Regions from separate parts of the Homo sapiens genome. Here regions 1 and 2 are each linked to region 3. The links come from fine-mapping of genetic effects on gene expression. A gene starts in region 3. Each other region holds a variant in brackets. All regions are shown on one strand. Distances are between the middles of the regions.

Region 1 (7,364 bases), 21 kb before region 3:
GTGACACTTGCTCCCAATGTGCAACCCCAGCTCCCTGGCTGTTCACTCATTGCTTCACCCTGTGGGTTTTGGAGGAGGGGAGACAAGCCCAGTCATCCCTGCTTCCCTTTCTGGAAGGCTTCCAGAACACTCCACACTCAGCCTAAGCCACCTCCTCTTCTTCCCTCCCCCAGTTAGAGGTGTTAATATCCTAGTGACAAAACTCACCACCCTGGCCAAGCCATCCGCATCTCAGGAGATAACCATCTTTTACCCTTCTCGCGGTGCTGCAGTGAGCTAATGGTCCTCTGCAGGAGCTGGGGGAAGGGATCGACCCCGACCTGCTAGCTGCTTTTGCAGCTTTAGCAGAGACCTGTAGGGTGTGAATGCAAAGCCTGGAGACTCTTGGTTTTAATGAAAGCAATTACAGTCTGTCGGATATGGGCCTCCAGACAGCTGTAGCACAGTCACCTGTAGGGTTGACTGAAAATGCAGACTCACAGGCCTTCTCCCCTGGCTGCCAGAATCAGCGTCTCTGGGAGTGGGGCCCAGGAATCAGCATGTTAGACACATTCCCTGGGTTTCTGTGGTGCTCTCTGAAGTTTGAGAGCCACCACCTAAAAGTCTGAAAAAGCTTCACCAACCCCTAAGTCAGAGGGTGCCAGATCAGGCTGTACCTCAGAACCCCAGGGGAGCTTTATTTTTATTTTTATTTTTTTGAGACGGAGCCTTGGTTTATCACCCAGGCTGGAGTGCAGTGGCGCAATCTCGGCTCACTGCAACCTCCGCCTCCCGGGTTCACGCCATTCTGCTGCCTCAGCCTCGTGAGTAGCTGGGACTACAGGCGCCCGCCACCACGCCCGGCTAATAGTTTTTGTATTTTTAGTAGAGATGGGGTTTCGCCGTGTTAGCCAGGATGATCTTGATCTCCTGACCTTGTGATCCACCCGCCTCGGCCTCCCAAAGTGCTGGGATTACAGGCGTGAGACACCGAGCCCAGCCTATTTTTATTTTTGAGACAGGGTTTCGCTCCGTCATCCGGGCTGGAGTGCGGTGGTGTGTTCACGGCTCAGTGCAGCCTGAATCTTCTGGGATCAAGCCATTCTCCCACCTCAGACTCCGAGTAGCTGGGACCACAGGTGTGCACCACCATGCCCAGCTAATTTTTCTTTTTTTTGCAGAGACACTATCTTGCTATGTTGCCCAGGCTGGTCTCAAACTCCTGGATTCAAGTTATCCTCCCGCCTCAGCCTCCTAAAGTGCTGGGATTATAGGGGTGAGCCACCTCACCTGGCCTCCCAGGGGAGCTTTTTTTTTTTTTTTTTTTTTTTAATCAGAGACAGGGTCTCACTATGTTGTCTTAAACTCCTGGACTTAAGTGATCCGCCCACCTCGGCCTCCCAAAGTTCTGGGACTACTACAGGCATGAGCCACTGCGCCTGGGAGCTTTAAACCACACATAAAACCATTGCTAAGTTGTCCCAACCTCCTGAAGTGTTTTGGAAAATAGGGTGTTTAGAGCCACACCTTTTGTTTTGTATCCAAAATAGCATTCCTGTTCCTGTATGTAGCTTGTTGCTTTGCTTCCCAGATTAGCACCAAATGACTCCAGTTACTTTATTTATTTATTTTTAATTTTAGTTTTATTTTATTTTTGAGATAGAGTCTCGCTCTGTCGCCCAGGCTGGAGTGCAGTGGCGTGATCTTGGCTCACTGCAACCTCTGCCTCCCGGGTTGAAGCGATTCTTCTGCCTCAGCCTTCTGAGTAGCTAGGACTATAGGCACATGCCACCACGCCTGGCTAATTTTTGTATTTTTAGTAGACACAGGGTTTTGCCATATTGGCTCGGCTGGTCTCGAACTCCTGACCTCAGGTGATCCACCTGCCTTGGCCTCCCAAGGTGCTGGGATTACAGGTGTGAGCCACTGTGCCCAGCTGACTCCAGTTATTTCTAAAGGTCAGGCCATCTTACAAAAGAATGAGGATATGCTTCCTTGGAGGGATATGCTGCAGACTAGGGCTTTTTACCAGCCAGAGCATTTTAAAAACAAGTGTCTGATCTCCTCTGGGGTGTCTGCTTTGGATAAGTGCAGTCTGTCTTCAGTCTTGCTAAGTGGTGAGACAGTGAGGTAGGAAGAGATGGTAAGGGCCCAGATCCTAGCTTCTGTCATTCTGGGGCCAGGCAGGGCTCTTTGAGCCTCAGTTTCCTCATTTGTAAAAATGGGACAGTAGGCCCTACTTTGACAGGTGGTTGCAAGGAACATGCCAAGTGCTTGGCATGGGATAAATGATATCACTCTTATTATCATCATTATTATTTTTGAGACAAGATTGCCCAGGCTGGAGTACAGTGGCACGATCATAGGTCACTGCAGCCTCGAACTCTTGGGCACAAGTGGTCCTCTCCCGTCAACCTCCTGAGTAGCTGGTACTACAGGCATATAGCACCATGCCCAGCTAATTGTTATTTTTTTTGTAGAGAGAGGGTCTTGCTATGCTGCCCAGGCTGGAGTGTAGTCACGTGATCACAGCTCACTGCAGCCTTGAACTCCTGGGTTTAAGTGAACCCTGGCCTAAGACTCCCAGGTTGCTGGGATTACAGGCACACGCCATCACACCCAGTTATGTTGTCAATGTTATCAATACTTTAAAGGCACACTTGTCTGCTTTCTACACTGTTGCCGGAGAAGGGTCATAAAGTGAAGTTTGGCAGAAAAGTTTGGCCATTGTCTAGTACTGAGAATGTGTGGAAGTGAGGAAAGGGGCCAGTATATTACACATCTATGGTGAGTAGTTGTGTCATCATTAAAGGCATTTGAAGAGTTGCCTTTTGATGGGTC[C/G]ATGCTATGGGATAAAGGTTACATGTTAGGAATCCTGGCCTTTTGTCATGAGCTCTAGCAGTGTTCAAGTATGGAAAACTTTAGTCACTTTACTGGAGCCTCTTCTTTTATTTACTTACATATTGATTTTCTGTATACAATTTTGTGTCCTTAAAACTTTTTTTATGTGTGAAATATGACACATAGTAACATATACAATAAACACCTGTTTCACCAGGCAGGTATACCATACATTGTATTACTGTATGCCTGTCAAGAGCCCAGTGTTCACAGTGTTAAAAATATAACTCCCATGTAGTAAGTACTTATCATATCTTTATTTAATTATGAGGGAACCAGCTAGAGATTAAAACTGGGGAATATGAGAGGCAGAGGTAAATGCTAGTCTGTGAAAGAAAGTGCTGGGGCCGGGCGAGGTGGCTCATATCTGTAACCCCAGCACTTTGGGAGGCCGAAGCGGGCAGATCACCTGAGGTCTGGAGTTCAAGACCAGCCTGGCCAGCATGGTGAAACCCTGTCTCTACTAAAAATACAAAAATTAGCCAGGTGTGGTGGTGCACACCTGTAGTCCCAGTTACTTGGGAAGCTGAGGCAGGACAATTGCTTGAACCCGGGAAGTGGAGGTTGCAGTGAGCTGAGACTACACCACTGCACTCCAGCCTGGGCAACAGAGCAAGACTCCGTCTCAAAAATAAAAAAAAAAAAAGGAAAAAAGAGAGTACTGGATACATTTAGCTACAGAAATGGTTAAGGGCCTACCATTAGTTACACATTGGCTATTGTCCTACAGGAAAATAAAACCATAAACTTTGAAGATATCTTTGCTGCAGGCAGAAATGCTTTGCATCTCAGTTGGCCAGAAATAATGAGCATTTTATACTCTGTAATGAGCTTCAGTCTTTAGAGTCTGGGCCTAATCAATAGTAAATAGTCAAACAAAGTTTTGTCCCCAGAGTAAAATACTCTGAAGGCAGGTTTGTTGGACAATCCTCTAGTTTGATTTTGAAAGCATGTATTTTTCATTATAATTTTAGTATGTAATTATGTATTCTTAAACACTATAGTTTTGCTTTTCCTGATTTTGAACACAGAGTAATTTTGTGTATCTTGCTTCTCTTACACACCATTGGGTTTAAAGATTCATCCATATGTTTGTGTGTAGCGGTAGTACATCCTTTTTCATTGCTATATAGTATTCCATTGTTTGTTTATACCACATTTTATTGATTCTGTTGCTGGTGGACATTTGTACTGTTTCCAGTTGCTATGGACATTTTTGTACATATCTCCTGAGGTCTATGTACATTGGAACTGCTGCATCTTAGAATGTGTGCTCCTTGGGCCGGGCCGTGGTGGTTCACACCTGTAATCCCAGCACTTTGGGAGACCGAAGTGGGTGGATCATGAGGTCAAGAGATCAAGACCATCCTGGCTAACACAGTGAAACCCCGTCTCAACTAAAAATACAAAAAATTAGCCGGGTGTGGTGGCGCACTCGGTGGCGCAATCCCAGCTGCTCTGGAGGCTGAGGCAGGAGAATCACTGAACCTGGGAGGCAGAGGATGCAGTGAGTTGAGATCGCACCACTGCATTCCAGCCTGGGCGACAGAGTGAGACTCCATCTCAAAAAAAAAAAAAAAAAAAAGTGTGCTCCTTCAACTTTACGAGATAATGCGGAACTATTTTCCAAGTGGCTGCACTGATTTACCCTCCCACCAGCAGAGATGAGTTTCATTTGCTCCATGTGCTCAGATATGTTCACTTTAGCATTTTGATCGTGTAGAGTGTGATAGCCGATGGTTTTAGATTGCATTTCTGTGATTACTAATGAAGTTGAGTACAGACTTTTGTTTGTTTTAAAAATAAAATACTGGGGCATGGTGGGCTCACGCCTGTATCCTAACAGTTTGGGAGGCTGTGGTGGGAGGATTGCTTGAGGCCAGGAGTTTAAGACTTGCCTGGGCAACATAGCAAGATACCATCTCTACAAAAAAAAGAAAGAAAATTAGCCGTGCATGGTGGCATCCACCTGTAGTCCCAGCTACTCGAGCGGCTGAGGTGGTAAGATTGCTTGAGCCCAGGAGTTTGAGGCTGCAGTGAGCCATGATCACGCCACCGCACTCCAGCCTTGGTGACAGAGCGAGACCCTGTCTCTAAAAAATAAATAAATAAAATATTGTGAGTCTCTGATGGGGAGCAGTATTGCATGGTGGTTGAGAACTGAGGCTCTGATGTTAGAACTGGATTCTGACTTAACCCACTGTTTGCCCACATCTTGAGCCTTGGTTTCCCTATCTGTAAAATGGCAGTATTCTCGGGCTGGCTGAGGAAAGGAAATGAGGCCAGGCGCGGTGGCTCAGGCCTGTAATCCCAGCACTTTGGCAGGCTGAGGCAGGTGGATGATTTGAGGCCAGGAGTTTGAGATCAGCCTGACCAACATGGCAAACCCCCGCGTCCACTAAAAATAGAAAAAAATAGCTGGGCATGGTGGTGCACCCCTGTAGTCTCAGCTACTTGGGAGACAGAAGCAGGAGAATTGGTTGAACTTGGAAGGTGGAGGTTGCAGTGAGCTGAGATCGCACCACTGCACTCCATCCTGGGCGACAGAGCAAGACTGTCTCAAAATAAATAAATAAATAAATAAATAAAGTTAAAAAAGAAAAGGAAATGAGTAATGCATGTAAGGGCACCCAAAAAAAGACCCTAGCTGGTGAGCTGATGATTCCACCCAGAGCCTGCTGTTCCCTCGTTCACTGTGATGTATAATCATGTGAGGAGCACCGTATGGAGAGTCAGACTTTTATTTTCCACCACAGTTGGGAGAGCAGGGGGGTCAGAAAACAGAACATCAGCTAGCAGAGCTTTGTCATGGACCCTAACTTGTCATCCTGGAGTCCCAGCTAGTAGGGTCCTGGCTGAGTCGGGAGGGTCCTTAGGCCTGGACCCCTGAACCCACATGTACTTGGACCTCATGGGCACAGGTAGAGTGTGGCCTGTGTCCACAGAGGCCCAGGACAGCTTCCAGGCTGGGGGCTGTGCTGACATGTCTGGGCTTAGGGCGCTCCTCACTCAGGGCTCTCTGAAGGCCAGAACTTTGCAGAGCTTGGAGCAGGGATGAGCCAGGCCCTTGGAAGCTGGGAAATGTTTCCTTGCCTTCTGAATGTGCTAACATCCCCCTCATGTGCCTATTTGCTTAACAAACCAGTAGGTGGGTCAGGAAAGTAATAACACAATTTCCTCATTTGCTGGCGAGGGGAAGGAGAGGAAGCTGAGGGTTTGGAAATTTTATCCAAGTGGGCCCAGGCTGGAAGGAGCTGAGCCTCACTTTTTCTCAGCCCATTTAGCCGCTCTGTGCCGCCTGTCCTGAGTTGCATGCCTGGTGTCCCTCTCTCTCGAGTTAGGGTGACTTTCTGATTATCATTCTTGTTGAGAGTGAAAAGGGGTGCATTGAAATTTATCCCTGAGCAGCAGACATGAACTGGGACTTGGGCGTGTGGTCACCCTGCTCCACACCTGTTCTCAGGAAAGGGCCTGTCTAGCTGTGATTTTGTCCTTGTGTCACCAGCCTTGGCTGTTACTGAGCAATGAAAGCTCTGCCTCGGGAAGTCATTTAATTTCTGAGCCTCATGTTCCTCTTCTGGAAGATGGGAATGAAAGTGTGCGTGTCCGGCCCATTTTTTAGGGCAATGATTGTCAGGGTATGAAGAGCTTGGTCAAGCTGTGTGAAGAGCTGTACAGCTGCAGAGGTTGTTAACATTGATAGAGCCACCCAGGAAGGGTGTCCTGGGTTCAGGCAGCTACTCCTCCAGCCGTCGGGTCAGCCAGCCGTAACTTTAGATACACTTATCCATGTGTAATGACTTTTTAAGAAGCAAGATCAGTTTCCCCAGCCCTTTATGGGAATACCCATGTGTCCATACTTGCTTTCAGCTTAGAGTTTGCTCAGGTTCCTAGAGCTGGTCAGGGTTTGCAGGACCGCCTGGGAGCAGATGGTACCATGGCCTTATTTACAGATGAGGAAACTGAGACCCAGAGGGGAAAGTGACTCCCAAGGTCATGTAGGTAAGCATACGGCTCCCCTAAGGATGAGGCATTGGTCTGGTGACAGTGCAGCCCATCATAAGGGACTGAGCCTGTGGGGTCCAGACCTGCTCTCCTCCCAGAGGAAAAGGCTCCCTGTCACCCCATCGCTAATGCAGATAGCGTCATGTCCAGGGAAGCTGTCACACATTCATCTGGGCCCCCAACATCAAGGACACCTGTCCCTGCAGGCCCCCTGCTGGCACCTTCGGGGCCCAGGGCAGGCCCCTGTCCATTCCGTGTCTGCACTTCCCTCCCTGGTCACAGGTTCTCAGGGGCAGGCTCTTTTCCTTAGCAGAAAGGAAACAAGGGAAGCTGACCTTTCCCACCTCAGAACAAAAGTTGGAAGGGCAGGTGCCTCGTGAGCCTGGAGGCCTCAGGAGGGGTGTCCCCTTCCCTTGTGCCCTCCCCGCCACCAACACCAGTGGACAGGGATCACTAAGAGAGTGGGGCTCGGGAGACTC
Region 2 (7,364 bases), 71 kb after region 3:
TTGTTCTTTTTTTTTTTTTTGAGACTGCGTCTTGCTCTGTCGCCCAGGCTGGAGTGCAATGGCGCGATCTCGGCTCACTGCAACCTCTGCCTCCCAGGTTCAAGCAATTCTCCTGCCTCAGCCTCCTGAGTAGCTGGGATTACAGGTGCCCGCCACCACACCCGGCTAATTTTTGTATTTTTAGTAGAGATGGGGTTTCACCATGTTGGCCAGGCTGGTCCCAAACTCCTGACCTCAGGTGATCCGCCCACTCGGCCTCCCAAAGTGCTGAGATTACAGGCGTGTGCCACCGCGCCTGTCCCATAGTTGTAAATTGTATCTCATTATTATTATTATTATTTAGAGTTGCTGTCACCGATGTTGGAGTGCAGTGTTACTTTCATAACTCACTGTAACCTTGAACTCCTGGGCTCAAGTGATCCTTCTGCCTCAGCCTCCTGAGGAGCTGGGACTACAGATGCACACTGCCATGGCTGCCTAATTCTTTTTGGTAGAGACAGTGGTCTCCCTACATTACCCAAGCTGGTCTCCAACTCCTGGCCTCAAGCAATCCTCCCACCTCAGCCTCCCAAAATGTTGGGATTACAGGCATGAGCCACTGTACCTGGCCAATGATTTTTAATTTATATTTCTCTGATTACTACTTAGGTTGGGCATCTTTTTTGTATGTTTGGTTTGTTAGTCTTTGGATTTCCTTTTTTCTGAAGGATATACCCATGTCTTCCCATTTTCCCATTGTGTTGTCTTTTTATTGATTGTGCTTCTTTCTGTATCCTAGATAATTTTTAGTCTCTTAATGGTATCTTTTCATGAACAGATGTTCTTTAGTATGAACGTAGTAGAATGTCTCAATCTTGGCACTATTGACATTTTGGGCTGGAAAATTCCTTGTTTTTTTTGTGTGTGTGACTCTGTGTGTGTGTGTGTGTGTGTGTGCGCGTGTGTGTGTGTTGGGGGCTGTCCTGTATATTGTAGGAGGTTTACCAGCATCCCTGGCCTCTGTCCATTAGATACCAATAGCACCCTTCTGCCCAAATTATGATAACCAAAAATGTCTCCAGACATTGCCGAAAGTGCCCTGGAGAGCAACATTGCCTTTCTGCCTCCTGTTTAAGAAATCCTCCACTATTCTGGTGGGGCGTGGTGGCTCACACCTGTAATCCCTGCACGTTGGCAGACTGAGGTGGGCAGATCACTGGAGGTCAGGAGTTCAAGACCAGCCTGGCCAAGGTGAAACCCCGTCTCTACTAAAAATACAAAAATTAGCCGGGCATGGTGGCACATAGCTGTAATCCCAACTACTCAGGAGGCTGAGGTAGGAGAATCGCTTGAACCTGGGAGGTGGAGGATGCAGTGAGCCGAGATTGCATCACTACGCTCCACACTCTAGCCTGGGCGACAAAGCAAGACGATGTCTAAAAAAAAAAAAAGAAAGAAAAGAAAGAAAGAAAAAGAAATCCTCCACTATTCTGAGGTCATGAAAATATTCTCTTTTATTATCTTCTAAAAGCTTTATGTTATTTTTCACTTTTCATATTTGGATTCCTGATTCACCTGGAACTGAATTTTGTATGTGGTGAAAAGTAGAGTTCGTTTTGTTTTTTTCTGTATAGATCCTCAATGTCCTAGTGCTATTTATTGCACTTATCTAACCACAAGCCCCCCTCTGTTATATGTCAAGTGGCATGGAGGCAGGTGTGTATTTCTGGGCTTTCTATTGTTTTCAGTGCTCTACTTTTCTGACCTTGCTCCAATATCACACTTCCGTAATCATTGTTGACTGTTAAAGAGGCTAGATCTGGAAAGGAAGTCCTTTTATTTTGTCTTGGCTATTCCTGGTCTTTTGTACTTTCATTTACATTTTAGAATAAGTTTGTCAAATTCTTCACAAAATCTGTTGGGATTTTGACTGAGATTGCATTGAATCTGTAGATCAATTTAAGGAGAACTGACATTTTTATAAATGTGTATCTTGCATTGCATGAACACAGTGCTCTATTTATTTTAGTATTCTTTAAATCTTTTAATAAAGCTTTATTATTTTTTCCTTAGAGAGCTCTGGCACATCTTTTGTTTGATTTATTACTCTGTACTTCATATATTTGATCCTATTATAAAGTATCTCTCTCTCTTTTTTTTTTTTTCGAGACGGAGTCTCACTCTTGTCGTCCAGGCTGGAGTGCAATGGTGCGATCTTGGCTCACTGCAACCGCTGCCTGCCAGATTCAAGCGATTCTCCTGCCTCAGCCTCCCGGGCAGCTGGGATTACAGGCGTGTGCCACCACGCCTGGCTAATTTTTGTATTTTTTAGTAGAGACGGGGTTTCAACATGTTGTCCAGGCTGGTCTCGAACTCCTGACTTCAGGTGATCCACCTGCCTCGGCCTCCCAAAGTGCTAAGATTACAGGCGTGAGCCACTACACCCGGCTACTTTACTTTTTAAACTTTTTTTTTAGATTCAGTGTCTCACTGTGTTGACCAGGCTGGTCTTGAACTCCTGGCCTCAAGCAATCCTCCCACCTCAGCCTCCCAAAATGCTAGTATTATAGGCATGAGCCAATGCACCCAGCTATAACTTTTCATTACAAAAAATTGTCAGTGTATATGAAAGGTGAAAGAACAGTACAATCAGCACACAAATACCTAGTTACAACAATTGTTAACATTTTATCATTTTTGCTTTGTCTATTTACCTTTACTTTTTTTTTTTTAATTTTAGAGACAAAGACTC[ACT/A]CTGTTGCCCAGGCTGGAGTACAGTGGTGAAATCATAACTCACGGCAGCCTCAAACTCCTGGGTTCAAGGAGTGATCCTCCCACCTCAGCCTCCGGAGTAGCTGGGACTACAGGTGCATGACACTGTGCCTAGCTAATTTTAAAATATTTTGTAGAGACAGGGTTTCACTATTATCCAGGCTGGCTTCAAACTCCTGGCCTGAAGCAATCACTCCCATCTCAGCCTTTCAAAAGGCTGAGGCAACTGATGTCAGCCACCATGCCTGGCATCTGCCTGTTTATCTGTCAATCAATCATCTATCTTTTATATATACACACATACATATATACATTATATATCTATATGGAGATGGAGTCTTGCCTTGTCACCCAGGTTGGAGTGCAATGGCATGATCTCGGCTCACTGCAACCTCCGCCTCCTGGGTTCAAGCGATTCTCCTGCCTCGGCCTCCTGAGTAGCTGGGATTATGGGCACCTGCCACCACACCCAGCTAATTTTTGTATTTTTAGTAGAGACGGGGTTTCACCGTGTTGGCCAGGCTGGTCTCAAACTCCTGACCTCAGGTGATCCACCCACCTCAGCCTCCGAAAGTGCTGGGATTACAGGCATGAGCCACTCAGCTGGCCATATATATATTTAAACCATTTGAAAGTGTGTGTGTGTGTGTGTGTGTGTGTGTGTGTGTGTGTGTTTGAAACCATTTGAAAGTTTATGTATGTGTATATATATATATAAACACACACATATTTTTATTGTCTATTTGATTCTTCCTTTTTATGCTTACTTTTTTCTTCTCTCTTCTTTTTGATCAATTACTTTTCATCACTTCATTTTTTTCTTATTTTTCCCCCTCTACTAGTTTGGAAGCTAAATATTCTATTTCTCATCTTTTAGTGACTGACCTAAAAATTTATTGTGCATGCTTGACTTACCAAAATCCACAGTAAATCTTTATCCTTTTACCTTCTCCCATACACCACAATGGCCTTAGAACACTTGAACACCAATCGCTCACCTTCTGACTTCTATGCTACGGGCTGTGTATTTTATTCTGTCTTGGTTTATTCCATCAAGGTTTCATTATGCACAGACAGAGGAGGAGCTCAGTCCTTGTGGCAGCTGCTTTCCTAATGAAGACTGGGGCCCTGCTCAGTCCTTCCCACTCCCTCTTGCTGAGGATGTATGTCCCCACCCTTTTCTTGATGAATGTGAGGGCCAGATCTCCCGTGGATATTTGGAACAGCTCCGCGGGCAAGTTGCTGGCTTGTTTCAGGTGAAGCCCACGCTTCTCAGATCACGCCCCACAAGAACCTGGTGTGCTTGGCGCCATGCCTGCCAGGGGGCTGTGCTTTGTCTTGCTCTCCCTCTTGGTCACCTTATGACCCTTGTTGAGGCCCACAGGGAGTACCAAGCCACGGCTGGGCCTACCCTGTGGCCCTGGGGGTCCGGATGGCAGTGGACACCCTCTTGTTAGCTTTTTAGATGTTAGCTGTAGATTTTGTTGTAGTTTTATGTAGTCAGTAGCAGATCAGATAAAATACAGAGTTCACATGTGATTCACTCCTTCCTTTATCTCATTCCTTCCATCTGAGGTTACGTTCCTTCTGCCTGAAGTAGTTACTTCAGGCTGAGGTAATTGATGTGAGCCACTGTGCCTGGCATCTATCTGTTTATCTGTCGTTTCCTAAGAATTTCCTAAGAAAAGGGTCTTTGGTAGCAAATGATTTTAGGTTCTATTTGTTTGATATTCCTCCTCCTCCTCTCCTCCTCTTCCTCCTTCTTCTCCTTTGTTCTTTATAGATATTTTCAGTGGGTATAGAGTTCTAGGTTGATGGTAATTTCCTCAGCACATTGAAGGTATTATTCCATCATCATCTTACTTTTATTGTTGCTCTTGAGAAATCAGCTGTCAATCAAATTGTTTCAGGCTGAAGTTTTCTGACTCTTTTGTCTGTTTCTTTTCTTTTCTTTTTTTTTTTTTTTTTGAGATGGAGTTTCGCTCTTGTTGCCCAGGCTGGAGTGCAATGGCATGAATCTCAGCTCACTGCAACCTCCACCTCCTGGGTTCAAGCAATTCTGCTTCAGCCTCCCAAGTAGCTGGGATTACAGGCGCCTGCCACCACGCTCAGCTAATTTTTTGTATTTTTAGTAGAGATGGGGTTTTGCCATGTTGTCTAGGCTGGTCTTGAACGCCTGACCTCAAGCAATCTACCCGCCTCGGCCTCCCAAAGTGTTGGGATTACAGGTATAAGCCACTGCGCCCAGCCTCTTTTGTCTGTTTCTAAGATCTAGTCTCTGTCTTCAGTGCTCTGCAATTTTATTATAATGTGTTGAAATGTGGATTTCCTTTTATTTCTGTTATGAAGTTACTGAGGTTCTTGAATCTGGGTATCTTATTTTCCATTTATTTTCTTTCTTTCCCTTCCTCTCTCTCTTTCTTTCCCTTCCTCTCTCTCTTTCTCCCTTCCTTCTCCCCTCCCTTCCCCTGCCCTCCCCTTTCTTTTTCTTTTTTTTTGACAAGGCCTTGCTCTGTTACCTAGGCTGTAGTGCAGTGGTGCAATCACAACTCACTGCAACCTCCACCTCCAGGCCTCAAGCAATCCTCCTGCCTCAGCCTCCTGAGTAGCTGGGACTACAGGCATGCACCACGACACCTGGCTAATTTTTGTGTTTTTGCAGACACTAGGTCTCACTATGTTGCCTAGGCTGGTCTCAAACTCCTGGCCTCAAGCAATCCTCCTGCCTTGGCCTCCCAAAGTGCTGGGATTACAGGTGTGAGCCCATAATCCCAGCAGTGAGATTACAGATACAGTGCCCGGCTCATTTTCCATTTATTTTTCTCACTGTGCTGTCATCTGCATCATTTCTTTCACTCTGTTTTCTCTGCTTTTTTTCACCCCTTCTTCCTCTGAACTGCCTTCTCTTTTCAGTTGTGTCTAACCTGCTATTAAATCTGTCCAATGAATTTAAAATTTTTATTACTATATTTTTCATCTCCAGAATTGTATTTTTTTTAAAAAAAACTGCTTGGTCATTTGTATATTCTTTTATTATTAATTCCATTTGTCTGTCTTTCTTTTTCTTTTTCTTTTTTTTTTTTTGAGACAGAGTCTTGCTCTGTCACCCAGGCTGGAGTGCGGTGGCACCATCTGGGTTCACTGCAACCTCCGCAGTCCCGGGATTAAGCGATTCTCCTGCCTCAGCCTCCCGAGTAGCTGGAACTACAGGCATGCACCACCATGCCCAACTAATTTTTGTATTTTTAGTAGAGACAGGGTTTCACCATGTTGGCCAGGATGGTCTCCATCTCTTGACTTCGTGATCTGTCCACCTCGGCCTCCCAAAGTGTTGGGATTACAGGTGTGAGCCACCATGCCTGGCCTCATTTTTATTTCTTAAAAGCTCTAAAATAGTAATTTTATGTCATGTTTCTGATAATTTCTATATCTACAGTCTTTGTAGGTCTGATTCTGCTGTCTATATTTCTGCTTCTTTTGCTCATGGTGCCTAGTTTGTTTCGGTTTTGTGATTTTTGATTCTGTGGTTATTTTTATCAAAACTATATGTGGGAATTTTTTGAGGCCTGAGATAAAGGTGGGTTCTTCTAGAGAGAATTGCATATGCTTCTTCTAGCACTTTAGGTACTTAGGACCACTTTGTTTTATTTTATTTATTTATTTATTTATTTTTGAGGTGGAGTTTCACTCTTGTTACCCAGGCTGGAGTACAGTGGTGCCATCTTGGTTCACTGCAACCTCCGTTTTTTGGGTTTAAGTGATTCTCCTGCCTCAGCCTCCCGAGTAGCTGGAATTACAGGTGCCTGCCACCAAGCCCAGCTAATTTTTGTATTTTTAGTAGAGATGGGGTTTCATCATGTTGGCCAGGCTGGTCGCAAACTGCCGACCTCAGGTGATCCACTTGCCAGGTGATCCACTTGCCTTGGCCTCCCAAAGTGCTGAGATTATAGGCGTGAGCCACCACACCTGGCCCTTAGGACCACTTTAAATTAAAATCTCTGCTGGAGGCTTTTCAGACGATTCGACCCTGTGAAACTAAACTGCAAATTGTTAGGACTAGCTTTTATATCTTTTTCAGGAGTTCTTTTTCACTTTTTTTTTTTTTTTTGAGATGGAGTCTTGCTCTGTCACCCAGGCTGGAATGCAGTGGCGCAATCTTGGCTCACTGCAAGCTCCGCCTCCTGGGTTCACACCATTCTCCTGCCTCAGCCTCCGGAGTAGCTGGGACTACAGGCGCCTGCCACCACGCCTGGCTAATTTTTTGTATTTTTAGTAGAGATGGGGTTTCACTGTGTTAGCCAGGATGGTCTCGATCTCCCAACCTCGTGATCCACCCGCCTCAGCCTCCCAAAGTGCTGGGGTTACAGGCGTGAGCCACCACACCTGGCCCTTTTTCACTTTTATGTAGTACCAAGAACCAAGGCCATTTTGGCTATAGCCCCTTGTGGTCAGATGTATTTCTAGTTTAGCCTAATAGTAAGGGTATAGCTTTAGGGTCTCACCTGTGTGAGAGAATATGCAATTAGAATCTCCATCTTGGGCAGACCTTGAGTTCTGTCTTCTGTCCCTGGAGCTCCTTAAGGTCTTAAAAACTGAAAGCTACTGGTTTGGCA
Region 3 (7,364 bases):
TTACCTGCGGACTTGGTTTCCTCTCTGGCTCTGAGCTGCTGTTGTGTGTGTCTGTGTGTGGGTGTGTGTCTCTAGCTGTAAGGTGCTGCTGTGTGTGTGTGTGTCTAGCTGTAAGGTGCCACTGTGTGTGTGTGTGTGTGTGTGTCCTGTCTGCTTGGGGGCACTGGCCTGTGGCCCTCCTGGGACCTCTGCTGCCCCTCGGGGAGAGAATGACTTGTCTGGATGCCAAGGGGGAGTTTGCTGCTGTCTGTCAGGCCCTTGGCCCCTACTTCCTCCTTGCTGAGAACTCCCCACCAACCTACTTCTGGCTTTCCACCCGCTCATTCCTCTCTGCCCAACTTGGTGATGCTCCCGGAAGCTTCCCTGAGCTCCGTCTCGTATTACTGTGTCACTTCCTCAGTGACATATCTGTCTCCCCACTAGCCAGAGCCCTTGGGGCAGGTGATGAGTCTAATTCATCTCTAAATCCCGGGTACCTGCCCAGGAGCGGTGCGGAGCTGTTGAATTAATGAATGAGCTTGGCTGGGGAGCAGTTCTAGCACTCTGCCGCTGCCAGGCAGAGAGCAGGAGCTCCACGCATTTGAGGAACGAGATGACAGGGCATTCCACAGTGGGACGGGACCTGGATAAAGCTGTCTGTAAGGTGGCCTGGCAACCCAAAGCACTATTCACAGTGCCTTCTGAATGTAATCTTTAATACACATCCCCTTTCTTCCTTCTTCCTCACAACCCTGTGAGAGAAGTAACTACTTATAGAGGGGCTCACTGAAACCCAGAAAGGCAAAGCAGATTGGTGGCAGTCACAGCTAGTGGCAGAGTGGGGCCTGAGACCCCCATGTGATGCTCACAGTCTGGTGCTGTGCCACCCGGCCATGGCAGGCCGCGTGCCTGTGTCTGTGGCAGCTCTTAGATGTGTGTCTCCTGGGCTCCATGTTTTGCTCCAGGTGCCCAGGGTCTGTGACTGGCCAGAAGGCCAGGCGGCCTCCCCTCTTGCTCATTGGGCTTGGGAAGAGGACAGTGGTAGAGAGGGGAATCTGGCCCTGCTCAGTGCTGCCAATCAGCCTCAGGTCCAGCTGCTTGAGGGGCATTTCTCTCTTGGGGCTCAGAACTAAGGAATTCTCCAGCCTCAGAATCACAGCAGGGTGGAGAGGAGGAGGGCTCTCCTGAGCTGAGCATTTGTAATCTGGAGAATGACATGGCCAGAGTCAGCTGAGCTGGGGCAATGTGGGGAGCATCCAAGGCTGCCCTGGGTGGTATAATTAGAGACAGCACTGACACCTGCTCCCCTCCAGGGGTGCAGGCAGCCCAATACTTTCCCAATAGAAGGGAATTAGTTGGCAAAGCTTGCCTCATGTCGGCCTGCCCCACTCCCCGGGAGGCTTCATTCACCTTCAGATCTATTTGATGGAACAGTGCTTTGGGGGACATTGCTGCCAAGTCTCCACTCCCTGCTCACAGAAAGCTCTGCCTCCTGGAAATGGGCCAATGGGAGGAGTTTCTGGATTTCCTTCTGGCAGTGGCCTAAGTTCCTGAGGTCTTGCATTATGAGGGGGTTACCAATATATCTTAACCCCAGGCCTTTAAAAAAAATATTATTTGGGGTGGGGGCCAAGGAGACTAGGCCTCAGAGACGTCCTAGGGAATGATTTAATTTAATAGAAAATAATTGAGGCTTATAAAAAGGCACAAAAATCCTGGCTAACACAGTGAAACCCCGTCTATACTAAAAATACAAAAAATAAGCTGGGCGCGGTGGCGGGTGCCTGTAGTCCCAGCTACTCGGGAGGCTGAGGCAGGAGAATGGCGTGAACCCGGGAGGCAGAGCTTGCACTGAGCTGAGATCGTGCCACTGCACTCCAGCCTGGGTGACAGAGCAAGACTCCGTCTAAGAATAAATAAATAAATAAATAAATAAATAAATAAATAAATAAATAAAAAGAATAAAATAATTCTCTTTTCCCCCTCAGAAGAAACCACTTGAATTTTTTAAATTTCAGGGATACCCCTGGGGAATTCTTCAGTGTCCTCTCTGTGTACAACACTATGCTGAGCTTTTGGAAGAGGATACCAAAGAAAACAAAACTAGGCCGGGTGCGGTGGTTCACACCTGCAATCCCAGCACTTTGGGAGGCTGAGGTGGGAGGATCGCTTGAGTCCAGGAGTTTGAGACCAGCCTGGGCAAAATGGCAAGACCCCGTCTCTATAAAAAAAGAAAGAAGGAAAACAAAACAGTGGGTAATGACTGCAAAGAGACGAAGGAGTGGGTGGAGGAGGGGTCTCTGGTGCTCGTCCTGTAGGTGGATCGATGTGAAAGCAGTCCACTGCAAGCTGAGCAGTGCACGTGGGGTGTAGGGGCCTTCCGGACCAACAGGGGGAGCAGTGTGGCGCAAGAGGAAGAATATGGACTTTGGTGTCAGCATGCCTAGTTTTGAATCCTGGTCTCTGACATTTTTAATTAATTAATTAATTATTTTGAGACGGAGTTTCACTCTTGTTGCCCAGGCTGGAGTGCAATGGCACAATCTCAGCTCACTGCAACCTCCACCTCCCAGGTTCAAGCGATTCTCCTGCCTCAGCCTCCTGAGTAGCTGGGATTACAGGCATGTGCCACCATGCCCAGCTAATTTTGTATTTTTAGTAGAGCTGGAGTTTCTCCATGTTGGTCAGGCTGGTCTTGAACTCCTGACCTCAGGTGATTCACCTACCTCAGCCTCCCAAAGTGTTGGGATTACAGGCATGAGCCACCACACCCAGCCTTTTACTTTTTATTTTATTTATTAATTTATTTATTTTTGAGACGGAGTCTCGCTCTGTCACCCAGGCTGGAGTGCAATGGCACGGTCTCAGCTCACTGCGACCTCTGCCTGCCGGGTTCAAGCAATTCTTTAGCCTCAGCCTCTTGAATAGCTGGGATAACAGGCACCTGCCACCACGCCCGGCTAATTTTTATTTTTATTTTTTTTTTGAGACAGAATCTTGCTCTGTAGCCCAGGCTGGGGTGCAGTGGCGCGATCTCAGCTCTGCCTCCCGGGTTCAAGCAATTCTCTGCCTCAGCCTCCCAAGTAGCTGGGATTACAGGCATGCACCACCAAGCCTGGCTAACTTTTGTATTTTTAGTAGAGACAGGGTTTCACCATCTTGGCCAGGCTGGTCTTGAACTCCTGACCTTGTGATCCACCTGCCTCGGCCTCCCAAAGTGCTGGGATTATAGGCATGAGCCACTGCGCCCGGCTGGTCTCTGACACATCTAAGCTATGAACCATTAGGGTAAGTTTCTGACCATCTCTGAGCCCCATCTATGAAAGACTCATAGGGAGGTTGAAATTGCACCACATGTACGATATCTGGCCCAGTGTAGGAAATGTATAAATGTTAGCTTCATCCCTCAGGGAAGCCCACTGAGATCCACACGAAACTTTTGTCTGTGTCTCCCCATAATGTGACCTTTAGAAGTTGCCAATGGCCCACCCAATACCCAACCATGATTTTTCTGAGATAATCTGCCCGAGGTGTGTGAGAGGAAACGCGAAGAAGGCAGTCAGGAGGATTCACTCTTGGGGGAGCTGGGTAGGATCCTATCTCCTCCTACATCCAGAGCATGCAGGCTCCATTTAGATACAAAGGGGTGGGATTGGGTTCCTGGGGAGAAATTGAGCCCCTTTGATTCTGCGGTTCTGTGGGTCTAAATCTGGCATCTCCTTGGCTATCCACCCCCAGGCTTTGTGATTGGTTGGCTGTGGTTGGTGGGGGGGCAGGAAGCTGCTGGTGGAGCTGCAGCATCCTTCAGTCTCAGGCCCCTGGGAGGGGGAGGGGAAAGAACCAGGGCTGAGCTGTGGAGTGAAGGGGAGCCATTTCTCTCCACCGACTGCAACCTCCGTGCTCACAGCTCACGGTTCACCAGAATCCAGGGGCTTGGTCGGCCTAGGAATCCACAATGCTGGATATTTTCATCCTGATGTTCTTTGCCATCATAGGCCTGGTCATTCTGTCCTACATTATCTATCTGCTCTAGTGGCCTGGAGCTGCGGCCGGAGCCTGCTGGAGAACAGCTCAGAAGGAAGGATGGAGATGAATGGCCGAGTGCCCTGCTTGCTGACGCACCGGTGGATTTTTGCTTCTGCTGTTATCTCGGGTATTGATTCCAAAAAAAAAAGAAAAGAAAAAAAGAAAGAGTTTGCTTTCCTATTTTTTTTCTTAGACCACTCTGAAAAGAATAAGAAATGCCAGCTTCTTTCTTTGGGACCTAATTTAAAATAAGACTTTAAAAATTACAAATAAAATCCACAATGTAAACGATTTTTAGGCAGAACGGGTTGGGAATGATGGATGTGGTGGGGAGGGACTATTATTTCCTAATTTCTTCTTCAAGTTAGGTGCTCAAACTCAAGTTGTCTATTTTCTTCTGGTAATTAAAGGTAAAACACATCTTTGCATGTCAGCATACTTGCAATATAGTTGTTTACAACTATGCTTGTATAATTGCATTACTTAATGATTGACTCATTCTTATTTGAGGGTGAGACGGCAAATAAATTTTACTTGGGGTGGGGTTTTCGGGGAGATGTCCAACTGTGGGATATGGTGGAGAGGAGGGAGGAACTCCTGGTACTTTGCAGTTGTCCCCATCTGAGACTTTTTATTTCTGGGTTTCTTACAGCTCCTGGTCTCTCCAGTCCAACAAGAGGCCTCTCATCCACAGAAGCAGTCCTACTGCCCAGCAGACCTCTTTCAGAGCCTTCCAGACATGGCTGACCCCTGGCAAGCAAGGGGCTTTTTGAGCTGAGAGGCACTTGGCTGGGACTTCAGGAATTCATGGACAGGGCTGGCAGATACTGCATATGTTTGAGCTGTAGATGGGATTGAGAACAGAAAGTTGAAATGGAGACTTATTAAAGTTACCGTGGAGAACTGCTCAAAAATTCATTTTGAATTAAGGAAACTTAAATTCATTTTAAGTTTCCTTAGATCTAAATGCAACTGCACATTACACTCAAATATGTTCCTTCCTTCTCACACACAGGACTCCCTTGTGAAACTCAAGGGGAAGTTCAAGTTGTCCATCTTCATCTATGAAGTAGTCACTTTATCACTGTCTTTACAGATTGCACAGTCTGGGGTTTTGTGGTTTCTCTTGTCTCACTCTCCAGCCAGGAAGAACTTGTCATTTGAGTTTTTAAAATGTATCATTTCTTCCCCACCTCAAACCACTTGTATCCCAGTTTCTCATTTAAAGGGAGAAATGGTTATATAGTCCTCTCTTTGCACCTGATTGAATTATAAATGATAGAAACAAGATGGCTATACTTATTTAGGAAAAATCTCTTACCCCAAAATGAGTGTGTGTGTGTGTGTGTGTGTGCGTGTGTGTGTGTGTGTGTGTTTTAATCAAAGATCTTTTCTGGAAAAAACTTTCCACATAGTTCTCTGACCCATTAGAGTTGAAGAAACTATGTATTTTGGGATTCAGAGTAGAATTGGCCTGCAAATCTGGGGTGTTTATTCCTTTTACAAGTCTATCATAATTGTTCTACATTTAATTTTCCTTTCTTGCTTAAAAGTAAACAAGGAGAGTCAGGAGTGGTGGCTCATGCCTGTAATCCCAGCACTCTGGGAGGCCGAGGCGGATGGATCACCTGAGGTCAGGAGTTGGAGACCAGCCTGGCCAACACGGTGAAACCCCGTCTCTACTAAAAATACAAAAATTAGTCAGGCACAGTAGTGCGCGCCTGTAGTCCCAGCTACCCGGGAGGCTGAGGCCGAAGAATTGCTTGAACCCGGGAGGCAGAGGTTGTAGTGAGCCGACATCATGTCACTGCACTCCAGCCTGGGAGACATAGCGAGATTCCGTCTCAAATAAAATAAAATAAATAAATAAATAAACAAGGAGAAAGATTAGTTTTTAGTAATAACATTGTGTCCAATTTCCATGTTTTAAAACAAAAATTGAGGCATTATATGTCACAACTGAAATGGAAAAGTTGTGTTTAAAAATTATGGACAAGGCCGGGCACGGTGGCTCACGCCTGGAATCCCAGCACTTTGGGAGGCTCAGGCAGGAGGATCACTTGAGGTCGGGAGTTTGAGACCAGTCTGACCAACGTGGTGAAACCCTGTCTCTACTAAAAATACAAAAATTAGCTGGTGTGGTGGCAGGTGCCTGTAATCCCAGCTACTCAGGAGGCTGAGGCAGGAGAATCGCTTGAACCTGGGAGGCAGAGGTTGCAGTGAGCCGAGATCACACCTCTGCACTCCAGCCTAGGTGACACAGCAAGACCCCATCTCAAAAAAAAATAATAATAAAAACATAAAAATTATGGACAAGAAAAAACACTATTCTGGAAGCTTTGTTTTGGCAACAAATTATATGACCTGACCTTTCATAAGTCATTTAAACTTTAGGGCTAGGCCAGGTGCTATGGCGCATGCCTATAATCCCAGCATTTAGGGAAGTAGAAGCAGGAGGATAGCTTGAGGCCAAGAATTCCAGACCAGCCCAGGCAATATAGCGAGACCCCCGTCTCCACAAAAATAAAAAATAAAATAAAAATAAATAAATACATAAACTTTAGGTCCTCTGTTTATTCTGTCAAATGAAAGTGTTAGGCCAAGGTCGCATTATCTCTTTGGAAACTACATCGAGAACAGAATTCCCATGGAACGAACTCTTAATAGTTCACTGGTAGTCCCCCTTTTCTGAATATTCTTCCCAACATGACACTTTATAACAAAAATTTAACTGCAAAACTCTTTTTTTTTCACCAACAGCCAGATTTTGATGAGAAAATGGCCATATTTATTTACTCCAAATATATATTATGTCTGTGATAATTTGCCTAAACTGTTTAAGGAATATTAACAAGTATGATACTGCATCGTGGTATGTAGCAAAAAGATAGGTAATCTGACATACATGGATGCAAGCAGCATGGCTGTGAACCTGGATATATTTAGAAATGATCTTCAGTGGAGTCCTTGATGTGACATTTTCCACTAAAACATTCTTCTAACTCTGGTATATCTTAGTGTTTCGAACTATAATTTCCGTCTTCAAGCCAAGACAGCAGCTCTACATCCTTACCTAGGTAATTCAGGCATGCGCCAGTATTTTGGAGGGGTCCAAATTAGAGTTAGTTATGATGGTATAGATCTTTAAAGTATAGTCTAACCAAGCTTGCTCTGGTCTTTTGTGACATCAAGGCTTCTCAGTCTGTATTCACATAAAGTTGAAACAACTAATCAATTCAGTGAAAAAAAATCAGCAGATTTCACTCATACACTGGTGATATATACCACTGGTATTGGGTACAATGTAAGGAGAGAGGATTACCCATCTCTTCAGTTACTTGTAAAATATGATTTTAAAA

Direction of the effects. Positions count from the first base shown, and alleles are read on the strand shown. Sizes are in standard deviations (SD) of each study's normalised expression. Not every link is listed here.
With allele ACT in place of A in region 2, the expression in transverse colon of the gene that starts at base 3,855 in region 3 is lower (small effect, 0.25 SD a copy in GTEx).

What was found. PIP is the estimated chance that this variant, and not a neighbour inherited with it, causes the effect. A credible set is the group of variants that fine-mapping cannot tell apart.
Region 1: its variant is the best candidate, but not a certain one, in a credible set for the expression of LASP1NB in whole blood (TOPMed, PIP 0.51).
Region 2: its variant is the best candidate, but not a certain one, in a credible set for the expression of LASP1NB in transverse colon (GTEx, PIP 0.64).

What each region holds. Positions count from the first base shown.
Region 1 is chr17:38,901,086-38,908,449 of GRCh38, forward strand. All of the region lies in intron 4 of LASP1 (LIM and SH3 protein 1), which reads left to right. Among named protein-coding and RNA genes, the nearest start is that of MIR6779, 10 kb to the right of the region's middle. RefSeq lists an enhancer at 279-904. The variant C/G (reference allele first, on the strand shown) is at 2,821.
Region 2 is chr17:38,992,486-38,999,849 of GRCh38, forward strand. No RefSeq gene overlaps it. Among named protein-coding and RNA genes, the nearest start is that of FBXO47, 29 kb to the left of the region's middle. The variant ACT/A (reference allele first, on the strand shown) is at 2,732.
Region 3 is chr17:38,921,760-38,929,123 of GRCh38, forward strand. LASP1NB (LASP1 neighbor) reads left to right here and starts at 3,855. Exons shown (of 2, transcript NM_001414697.1): 1 at 3,855-4,132; 2 at 4,658-7,364. The coding sequence starts at 3,935. The coding sequence ends at 4,012. It overlaps LASP1 (LIM and SH3 protein 1), which reads left to right. Exons shown (of 7, transcript NM_006148.4): 7 at 1-11. RefSeq lists an enhancer at 240-850.